3 linked regions of the Homo sapiens genome follow. The protein of the gene in region 3 purifies or fractionates together with the protein of the main gene of each other region. This does not show direct contact. Each region holds a gene or a part of one and is shown on either strand. Other genes may lie near its edges.

What was found.
Region 1: the proteins of OAS2 (region 3) and CGAS purify together in Homo sapiens (affinity purification with western blotting; one study listed by BioGRID). This does not show direct contact.
Region 2: the proteins of OAS2 (region 3) and PRKG1 purify together in Homo sapiens (affinity purification with mass spectrometry; 2 studies listed by BioGRID and IntAct, with this or other methods). This does not show direct contact.

The regions. Positions count from the first base shown.
Region 1 is NC_000006.12:73,445,638-73,449,297, reverse strand, and holds part of CGAS (cyclic GMP-AMP synthase), read left to right. Parts: intron 1-3,550; coding exon 3,551-3,660. UniProt on the Homo sapiens protein: Nucleotidyltransferase that catalyzes the formation of cyclic GMP-AMP (2',3'-cGAMP) from ATP and GTP and plays a key role in innate immunity.
Region 2 is NC_000010.11:52,295,396-52,298,919, forward strand, and holds the end of PRKG1 (cGMP-dependent protein kinase 1), read left to right. Parts: 3' UTR 1-2,955; downstream 2,956-3,524. UniProt on the Homo sapiens protein: Serine/threonine protein kinase that acts as a key mediator of the nitric oxide (NO)/cGMP signaling pathway. GMP binding activates PRKG1, which phosphorylates serines and threonines on many cellular proteins.
Region 3 is NC_000012.12:112,998,880-113,002,539, forward strand, and holds part of OAS2 (2'-5'-oligoadenylate synthase 2), read left to right. Parts: intron 1-3,660.

The sequences.
Region 1 (3,660 bases), on a different chromosome or scaffold from region 3:
TCACCGTGTTAGCCAGGCTGGTCTCTATCTCCTGACCTCATGATCTTCCCGCCTTGGCCTCCCAAAGTGCTGGGATTACAGGTGGGAGCCACCATGCCCAGCCCAGAACCACTTTGTTTTTAAAAATTATGCCAATGAAAAGAAATCCAGTGAAATTTGTTTTATCTAAAACTTTTTCTTTTTTTCTTTTTCTTTTTTCTTTTTTTTTGGGGATGGAGTCTTGCTCTGTCACCCAGGGTGGAGTGCAGTGATGTGATCTTGGCTCACTGTAACCTCCGCCTCCCGGGTTCAAGTGAGTCTCCTGCCTCAGCCTCCAGAGTAACTGGGATTACAGGCGGGCGTCACCTCACCTGGCTAATTTTGTATTTTTAGTAGAGATAAGGTTTCAGCATGTTGGCCAGGCTGGTCTCGAACTCCTGACCTCAAGTGATCCACCTGCATCAGCCTTTCAAAGTGCTGGGATTACAGGCGTGAGCCACTACACCCAGCCTAAAACTTTTTCTATTACTGATTATGAGATATATGTGGGCCAGGTACAGTGGACTCATGCCTGTGATCCTAGCACCATGGGAGGCTGAGGCGGGAGTTTGAGTCCAGCCTGGACAACATAGTGAGACCCCAGCTCTACCAAAAATAAGTTAAAAATTAACTGGATGTGGTGGCACACACAGGTAGTCCCAGCTACCTGGGACTACAAATTCTAGGTAAAAAAAAATCTCGAAAATACATGGGAAGTTTCTTGTAGAAATTCCCTGTAGAATTGTCAGTCCATATGTTCTTTTCATTCTAAGTGTTAATGTACTTTACTATTTATATAGTTTGGACTCAGTGAAAAGGTTACATAGAAATCAATTAATTGTAGTTTTTTTTGTTTGTTTGTTTTTTGTTTTGTTTTGTTTTGAGACAGAGTTTCACTCTTGTTGCCTGGGCTGGAGTACAATGGCGTGGGTGGCCTCAGCTCACTGCAACCTCTGCCTCCCAGGTTCAAGCGATTCTCCTGCCTCAGCCTCCCGAGTAGCTGGGATTACAGGAATGCACCACCATGCCTGGCTAATTTTTTGTGTTTTTAGTAGAGATGGGGTTTCTCCATGTTGGTAAGGCTGGTCTCAAACTCCTGACCTCAGGTGATCCACCCGTCTCAGCCTCCCAAAGTACTGGGATTACAGGCGTGAGCCACTGTGCCCGGCCAGTGGTTTTAAGTAATGGTATATTAACTGGTAAAGAAAAGGAACAAACTACAGCAACATGAACAGTGAAAATGAATTACATAAATAATGTTGAACAACAACAAAAAGAACGTAAAGGAATACATACAGCTGATGCAGCAAGACAAGGAAAATAAAGGCATAAGATGGGAAAAAGAGTGATGAAATCGTTATGTGTAGATGACTTGATTGGCTTCACATATAAACTGTTGGAAATAATTAGTAAATTAGCAAAATTGCTGGTTGCAAAGTCAATAAACAAAAATAAAAATATTTCAATATACTAACAAGATTAAAAACAAAATGAAAATACCATTTAGAATATCATCAAAAATATCAAACCTAGGTCCATTGGTGCATTCTGATAGTCCCAGCTATTTGGGAGGCCGAGGTGGGAGAATCACATCAAGTCAGGAGTTTGAGGCTGCAGTACACTATGATCTATCTGTGAGTAGCCACTGTACTCCAGCCTAGAGACCCCATCTCTAAAAAATAAAAATTGAAAACTTTGGCCAGGCATGGTGGCTCACGCCTATAATCCCAGCACTTTGGGAGTAGAGGCAGGCAGATCACTTGAGGTCAGGAGTTTGAGACCAGCCTGGTCAACATGGCAAAACCCTGTCTCTACTAAAACTACAAAAATTAGCTGGGCGTGTTGGTGCGCGCCTGTATTCCCAGCTACTTGGGAGGCTGAGGCAGGAGAATTGCTTGAGCCCAGGAAGCTGAGGTTGCAGTGAGCCAAGCTTGCTCCATTGCACTCCAGCCTCAGTGACAAGCGTGAAACTCTGTCTCAAAAAAAAACAAAAAACTGAAAACTTGAAAAACAATTTAAAAATCAAATATTTAGGAATAAATATCACTAAAGATATTCAAAACTTAAAAACATAACTGGGTAAATTTGAAGAGGAAGTAATTGACAACTATATCGTGTTCATTTTTCCTCAAATTGTTCTAGATTTAATGCAATCAGTTGAAATATGATCAGTTTTTTAAATTAAATTGACAAACTGATTAAAATATGTATTCATTTATTTTTTGAGACGGAGTCTCGCACTGTCGCCCAGGCTGGAGTGCAGTGGTACCATCTCGGCTCACTGCAACCTCCGCCTCCCGGGTTCAAGCAAGTCTCCTGCCTCAGCCTCCTGAGTAGCTGGAACTACAGGTGCATGCCACCACACCTAGCTAATTTTCATATTTTTAATAGAGACGAAGTTCCACCATGTTGGCCAGGATGGCCTTGATCTCTTGACCTTGTGATTCGCCTGCCTCGTCCTCCCAAAGTACTGGGATTACAAGCGTGAGCCACCGCGCCTGGCTGAAAGGACGATTTTTTTTTTTTTTTTTTTTTTTTTTTTTTTGAGACGGAGTCTCGCTCTGTCGCCCCGGCGGGACTGCGGACTGCAGTGGCGCAATCTCGGCTCACTGCAAGCTCCGCTTCCCGGGTTCACGCCATTCTCCTGCCTCAGCCTCCCGAGTAGCTGGGACTACAGGCGCCCGCCACCGCGCCCGGCTAATTTTTTTTTGTATTTTTAGTAGAGACGGGGTTTCACCTTGTTAGCCAGGATGGTCTCGATCTCCTGACCTCATGATCCACCCGCCTCGGCCTCCCAAAGTGCTGGGATTACAGGCGTGAGCCACCGCGCCCGGCCCGATTTTTTTTTTTCAATAAATAATGCTGGGTCAATTGGATATCTATGTAGGAAAAACATGAACCTTGATTCCCTACCACATATCATACACAAATTTTTTTTTTTTTTTTTTTTGAGATGGAGTCTTGCTCTGTTGCCCAGGCTGGAGTACAGTGACACTATTTTGGCTCACTGCAACATCTGCCTTCTAGGTTCAAGCAATTCTCCTGCTTCAGCCTCCTGAGTAGCTGGGATTACAGGCGCATGCCACTATGCCCGGCTAATTTTTGTATTTTTAGTAGAGACGGGGTTTCACCATGTTGGACCAGGCTGGTCTCGAACACCTGACCTCAGGTGAATCGCCCGCCTTGGCCTCCCAAAGTGCTGGGATTACAGGCATGAGCCACTGCACCTGGCCCCACAAAATTTAATTATAGGTGTGAGCCACTGCACTTGGCCTAAAATCATTTTTAGTTATAAAAATAATACTAGGTCATGGTAAAAAAAATTAATTGAGTGTAGAACCTACAAAATGAAACTGGTAATACTCTTCCACCTCCTGCCAGCTCCACTAGTCCCACTCCCAGAGGGTATATATAGACATTATGAATCTTGCTTTTTAAAGTAAAGTTTTAAGTGGAAATTTTTTAAAAAGTTCCAGTCACTTGGAAAATATTCATAAGCAAATATTTCAGTACTATTTTTACTGTTTCTTAGATTTCTGCACCTAATGAATTTGATGTCATGTTTAAACTGGAAGTCCCCAGAATTCAACTAGAAGAATATTCCAACACTCGTGCATATTACTTTGTGAAATTTAAAAGAAA
Region 2 (3,524 bases), on a different chromosome or scaffold from region 3:
AGACTAGATTTGAAAATGTCAAGCTGATTTACTTTATTCACATGGAGAAAAGAATCCACAAATTAAACTGAGTCCTTCACTGGCATGCCAGTTGACTATTATTAGCTGTCATAAGTAACTCAGCCATTTGGAAGCATTTCCTGGACAAAATTACATTATACCTGTGAAGAAAAATATAGAAGCTTTCAAGCTGTCATTCTGTTTTGGCCCTGTGTGAATTTGGTATATTAAATTGACGCTTGCTTTTTTTTTCAGTAGAGTTTTCTTTTTAATCAATCAAACGCCTACATTTCTGGAAGAAAAAGTCCAATTAGATCATTACACCTTAACTAAGAAGGCAAATCTTATAAATTTTGCTTGAATTGTTCTTACTCAAAACTACCTTAGAATATGGTATCTTATGAAAATATAATATTCTTAAAATTTTGGAGGATAAAATGAAAAGGGTATAAACTTCAATTAGAACTTTAATCCTAAAATATTGTTATTCTTGTATTTTTGGAGTTTTCCGTCCCTTACAATTTCTCCAAATTGGTCTATTCCCCAAGATATCCACTGTTTTCTACAGATTTTAGAATATAAAATTAAACATATCAACCTAAAATCTAGCTATGAATGTTATTTCAAGAGTTTTATATTTTTAATTGGCTTTTTAAAAATATGTAATTCCAATATTATAGTGAATGTTCAGTAACTTTTGTTGAAAGATAATGTGGTTTAGGCTTGCTAAAGAAAGGCTTGCTAGAATACTAAATTTACCTTGTTATTTGGAAAGAGAATCTGCTCCTATAACGTTTTAAAAATCCCCAAAGTCCCAGAGATTAGCACTTGCTATGGATTTTGGAACTATGGTTCAAGTCTAAGACAACCAATATGAATAAGTTCAATGGAGAAGGAAGAAGTAGCATTCAGCACAAGAAACTGTAGATTGTTTCTCCCACTTGTTACTGCATCTTTGTTCATTTCACCCATAGCATTGCATTTGATGTCTGAAGTAATTACCACAAAATAAAGGTAAACTACATCTTCCAAGATGTACCAACAGAAAACATTCGTCTAATTTTGTCAACATTGAATTTTTAGGATTTAAATCTTGTCTTAATGAAGACTCTAGGGCTAAAATTCATGGTCAGTTCCATAAAATGCATCTCACTTTATTTCTGAATTTTTCACAACCCCTCTATTTTCTTACATTAAAGAACATCTGGATAAGTTAGAATAGTGCCAACTTGTTTGATTTGTTATATGATTTTCTTGTTAATGTGTTGAGTATGGGAAATAAGGGCTTTCTGTGTGTCTTGACTCACAGGAAAACTGAAACTGCCAAGGGAAGCAACATTAAAACAACTGGGATAGATTGAATACATTTGAAAAAATAATTTCTGGAAAAACGCTATACATGCTTTTTATGTTTATATCTTCTTTCTTATTAAGACATGAATCAGATCCATGTGGCATTCAAAACAAATTTATTTTGGTTATATTCTTTACAAGTCATAATTTTTACCTAAAATTGTGGAATATGCATGTGAATTACACATGTGTAGTAATAAACTCAACTATTGAATTTTTCCTGTTTCATTTCTAAATGACTGAACTGATGGTAAACAAATTTAATGAAGTCAGCTACCATGTTGAAAATAAGGATATTAGAACTGATTTCATACAATAGAGGTGATCTGTGCATTATCCATAACAACGTTTTCTTTCACTATAGGACCACAGACAAATATTTATGTAAATAGGTATTTTTGTGTGATATTTTGTGGTACATATAACTTTTTTTAGTGTTTCACAGCATTATTATTTCATTTTATTTGTATTGAATAATGTTTTTAGGTCCAAGTAGACTTGAATTAATGTCATAATTGTCAGTATTATTGAAAATTATGTCAACTGTACTGTTATTCATCTGTCCCATAGTTTAGAACATGACCTGGCTATCTGGCATTGTTGCAAGTGCCTTAAATTCATGGCATCCTATTAAAAAAACAAATTTGGTGTTATGCTGCATGACAAAGACAAACACACCTCAAAATGTTGTCCTTTCTTAGCTTGCTGCGTTTTACAGTTCTTTCTGCTAACAATTTATAAGCCTTTATTATATAATATTGATGAATTACAGAAATGATGAAGTTGTTCTCTTATTTCTGTTAAATGTACCAGAGCTGTGTATCTGTTAATGAGATACAGCGTCATTTCTGTGAAATGTATAAATGTATGTGCAGGTCAAATTAATATATGACATTCTATCAGTCTGTATACAGGTATTCCTGTTTTGCTAAGCTGTGCAGATTCTGTAAAAATAAATTAGTGCAGTCAAGTTCTAACATATCTCATTTTATAGACTCCATTGACAATGGTCCAACCGAAAAGAAAAATTGGAAATGACTGCTAACCAGACCTCGTTATGAAACCAATGATGAAAAAGTCACTTGGTGCACCTCTCAACAAAACAGGATGCTTTTTCCGAGTTCTTGTATATGCAAATCATTTACGAGGCAAGTTTTCAACAGACCTAGAAAGCAAAACATTGAAAGTGTGTTGTTAGCCCTCCTCTCTGCCCCTGAATCAACAGACAGAGCTCTGGGACCTTGGCAATGACTCAGAGGTTGGGGCTTTCTGAGTAAAGGGACATTTCTTTAAGCATCATCTATCAAATTTATTTCAATGTATGATGTTTTTACAACTGGTCAGTTCTTTTGTATTCTTACAGCTATGGTTATTTGATTGTCCTCTTACAATTTGTTCTACATGAAAGAGTTCTTTGTTAGTCAGAATGCAACAAACTGTCATCAAATGGTCATTGACCACTTGCACTCTTTTGATGTAGATTAAAAACTTTTTCATAAATTTACCTGCTTTGATTTGCTCTGTATTTTTCCTGCAGCTGTAATTGCTGAGTGCCTGTTGTATACTTTATAGAGTTGAAATAAAAAAATAATTACTTTTGAACTTAGTTGATGTTTAATTCCAGACAAGATTCCAAGAATAGAATTGGTATATCATACTAGATGAAATACCAGGTAGTGCTGTTGTAGAATGTCACTATAACAAAGTAGGAAATACCTATAATCCAAGCATCCCTCATGAAATAATATACTATATTATAATCTAATATAAAACTAATCCAACAAATTGGTTTTAAAGAATTCATAGGAATAATGTTGGGCCATCCAGTGTGAAAAGCAAAGTGAATATAGATATTCACACAAACTCAGAAATTAGCAGATTTCTGAGCATGACCACCACACAGTCCTTTTTTGGGCTATCCCTAGTCAAACTCTGTACTAGGCAAAACAATCAAAGGGACAATTCTTGTATATTACTACATCCTAGGAGGAAATGATTTCATATGAAAAGCAACTTCATGAGTCTTTGTCCAAGGATTTTTCACCTGATTCCTTGGCTTCATCATATGCACAAAGAAGAAACATTTGGGGAACAATATGATTACAACAAATTCAACTCTCCAAAGCCTAGTTAAACATATTCTTTCTACATCCCTTTGTCCTTCTCTGCAG
Region 3 (3,660 bases):
TTTCCAAGTAACACACATTCATCGATACTGTAGGTTGGAACCCCAGCATCTTTTAGGGAGACACAGTTCAACCCATCACACACCATCAGGGCAATGACTGTGAAGTGCAAAATGGAACAAAGAGAAAGGGGGGTACCCAAAGATGCGAGATCTCAATTAATTTTTGCAAGAGAGAAAGCTGGTGAGCAGGTGGAGACATGAAACGGAGCATTGCTCAGAGAAGGGGGTGGCAGTCAGGCCTGTGGATGCCAGGACAGGCTCTGAGCTCCGTTCAGGCAGGTGCCGGGGGCAACAGTCAGAAGTGCGGCCGAAACAAGAGAACCAATTAAGGCACCAGCTGTGAAACAGGTGCACTGGCCTTCCCCCTCCCATCCCCAAAAGGAGAAGTAAATCTGTCAACACAAACTCCCCTGCATGCTCAGTGCTTATTAGAGAAAAGCCATCCAAGAAGAACCTTCCCAGGTTAGACCACTGAGCCCTCTCAGCTTTCCTGGGAACCGCACTGGAGACAACTGTATTAATTGAGGCCAAAGAGGCCAATCAAATTCCACAGTTCACAGACAGATTAATTTATATTCAAGTTATGGGAGGCGGAATCTATACCCCGTTTGCACAGAAGTTTGAAGGCTAACTGAGTACCAATCTGGCATGTAAATGAAGATGTAAATGAGTTTAGCAAACTTCACAGAGGTTGGGGAGTCTATGAATGGGGAACTTCCCTAACTGGACCCAGAAGGATCAGGACGCTCTGAGCAGTCACCCCTGTGCCCACCCTAACCCCTACTTTCACTGGACCCCTGGTCTTTGCTCTCTGACCCCAATTTTCCCGGCTTCTTCAGACAGATTTTTTCAAAAAATTATCCCCCCGACCTGACATCTTATTCTGAAGCTTTGAAACATTTAAAAAGTTAGAAAAATGATTCAGTAAACTCCTATGATCCCCTCACATAGATGCAGTACCCATGTGCAACATTTGCTATGTTACAGTTTGTGTGTGCACACGTTATTATTGTTGTTGTTACAGTTGTTTTTAATCTTTTTTTAAGAGATGGGGCTATAACTCGCTACATTGGCCAGGCTGGTCTCAAACTCCTGGGCTCAAGTGATCCTCCCACCTGGCCTCCCAAAGCTCTGGGATTACAAGCGTGAGCCACCTCACCTGGCCCATTGTTATAGTTGTTGTTTATACTGAGCCCTTTGAGAGTAGACTGCCAGACATCTCTTTACCCTTAAATGCTTTCATAGGGATCTCTGAGAACAAGAATATTCTCTTCAATAACCTCCATGCCATGATCAAATTCAGGAGACTAGGAGTCATATATTATTGTCCCAATACAGCCCATTGGGATGATTTCGACAGTCATTCCAAGAAGGGCCTTTATAGGACATTCTTTTCCAACCCAGAAGCACATGTGGCATTTAGTTCCAAACATCTCCTAAACCATCTTTTGATACTCACTGTGGCTGTTTTTGTTCTGCTATCCCATCAACTTCTATTTTGAGAACTGTGAGACCATCCCTGTCTCTGCAGTTGTTGAAGAAAATTTAGGCCCAGGAACCACTGCATAAGGCGGTCCAAACATTGGGGGCTCATGCACACATACACACACACACACACACGTACATGCATACACAAACATGCACACACACACTCACACATGCACACACATGTACTCACACCATGCACACACGCACACACGCACACACATACATGCATACACACATGCATACATGCACTCACACACATGCACACACGTACTCACACCATGCACACACATGCACTCACACACATGCACACATGCACTCATGCACACACATGCATGCACACCATGCACACACATGCACTCACACACATGCACACACATGCACTCATACCACGCACACATATGCACTCACACACCACAAATATTCTGCCCTGTGGAAGGGGCAGTGTTGGCAATGAATATTCCTTCAATAGGCACCGTCCTCAGCAACTATAAGGCCAACTTACAACATCTGAGAACAACCAAGGTTGGCCTTCAACTTTCAAGCTGAGTGCCCTTCCCCACCTCCAGGTGAGCTAGCCCATCTTGTCTGTGTTGCCAGCAAAAGTACAATATTTGTATAGAACAGTAATTACTTGCCTCTTACTGCTGTTTTAAAAAAATGCCCTAAACTTAGTGGCTTAAAACACATGAATTTGAGCCAGGCACAGTGGCTCACACCTGTAATCCCAACACTTTGGGAGGCTGAGGCGGGAGGATCACTTGAGAACAGGAGTTTGAGACCAGCCTGAGCAACATAACAATACCCCGTCTCTACAAAAATAAATAAATAAATTAGCTGTAGTCCCAGCTAGTTGGGAGGCTGAGGCAGGACGATCACTTGAGCAAGGGAGATCAAGGTTGCAGTGAGCCATGATTGTGCCACTGCATTCAGCCTGGGTGACAGAACAAGACCCTGTCTCAAAATTACTTTTGCACCAACCAAAAAATATATATATACATATATATACACACACACATATACACATATATATACACATATATACATATATACACATATATGCACATATATATACACATATATACATATATACACATATATACATATATACACATATATACACATATATATACACATCTATACACATATATATATACACATATATATATATACATATATATGCTTCCTCACCTTTTCAAGCTCCTTGAGGTTGTCCAAATTTCTTGGCTCATGGCCCCTTCCTCCATCTTCAAAGCCAATAGCATAGCATCTTCCAGCCTCTCTCTCTACTTCCAACATCACACCACCTAACTCTAACTCCAACACCACCACACTCCAACTCTAACCCTCCTGCCTCCATCTTATAAGTACCCTTGTCCTTATAAGCACAGTGGCTCACGCCTGTAATTACAGCACTTTGAGAGGCTGAGGTGGGAGGATTGCTTAAGACCAAGAGTTTGAGACCAGCCTGGGGAACCTAGTGAGACTCCCATCTCTACAAAAAAAAAAAAAAAAAAAAAAAAAGCTAGGCGTGGTGGCACAAACCTGTAGTCCCAGCTACTCAGGAGACTGAGGCTGGAGGATCCCTTGAGCCCAGGAATTGGAGACTGCAGTGAGCTATAATGGCACCACTGCCCCCCAGCTTGGGTGACAGAGCGAGACACTATTTCTGAAAAAACATGGGTTAGAATCATGGGTTGGAAGGCTACCTGTTGGGTTCTATGCTCACTACCTAGGTGATGGGATCATTCATACACCAAGCCTCAGCGACATGCAATTTACCCATGTAAAACCCCACACATGTACCTCCTTGAACCTAAAGTAAAAGTGGAGAAAAATGTATTAATTAATTCAATTAAAAATTAAAATTAAGAGGAAAAAGACCCCTGTGATAACATCAGGCCAAACCAGGTAATGCAGAATAATCCTCCCATCTCTAGAGACTTAACCACGTGTGCTTCAGAGGGAGCACAGCTGTGCCAAAACCTGGACTTTGAACTGTTGGCCTCCAGAACTGGGAGAGAATAAACTTCTGTTGTTTTAAGCCACCTAGTTGTGGTCACTTGTTATGGCAGCCTTTGGAAACCAACACACCCGCACATGGCGTGTTTAACGCAGGCTGATACAACCTTAAGAAAGGAATGGATGTGGTCATCAGCAATCTCCAATACCTAC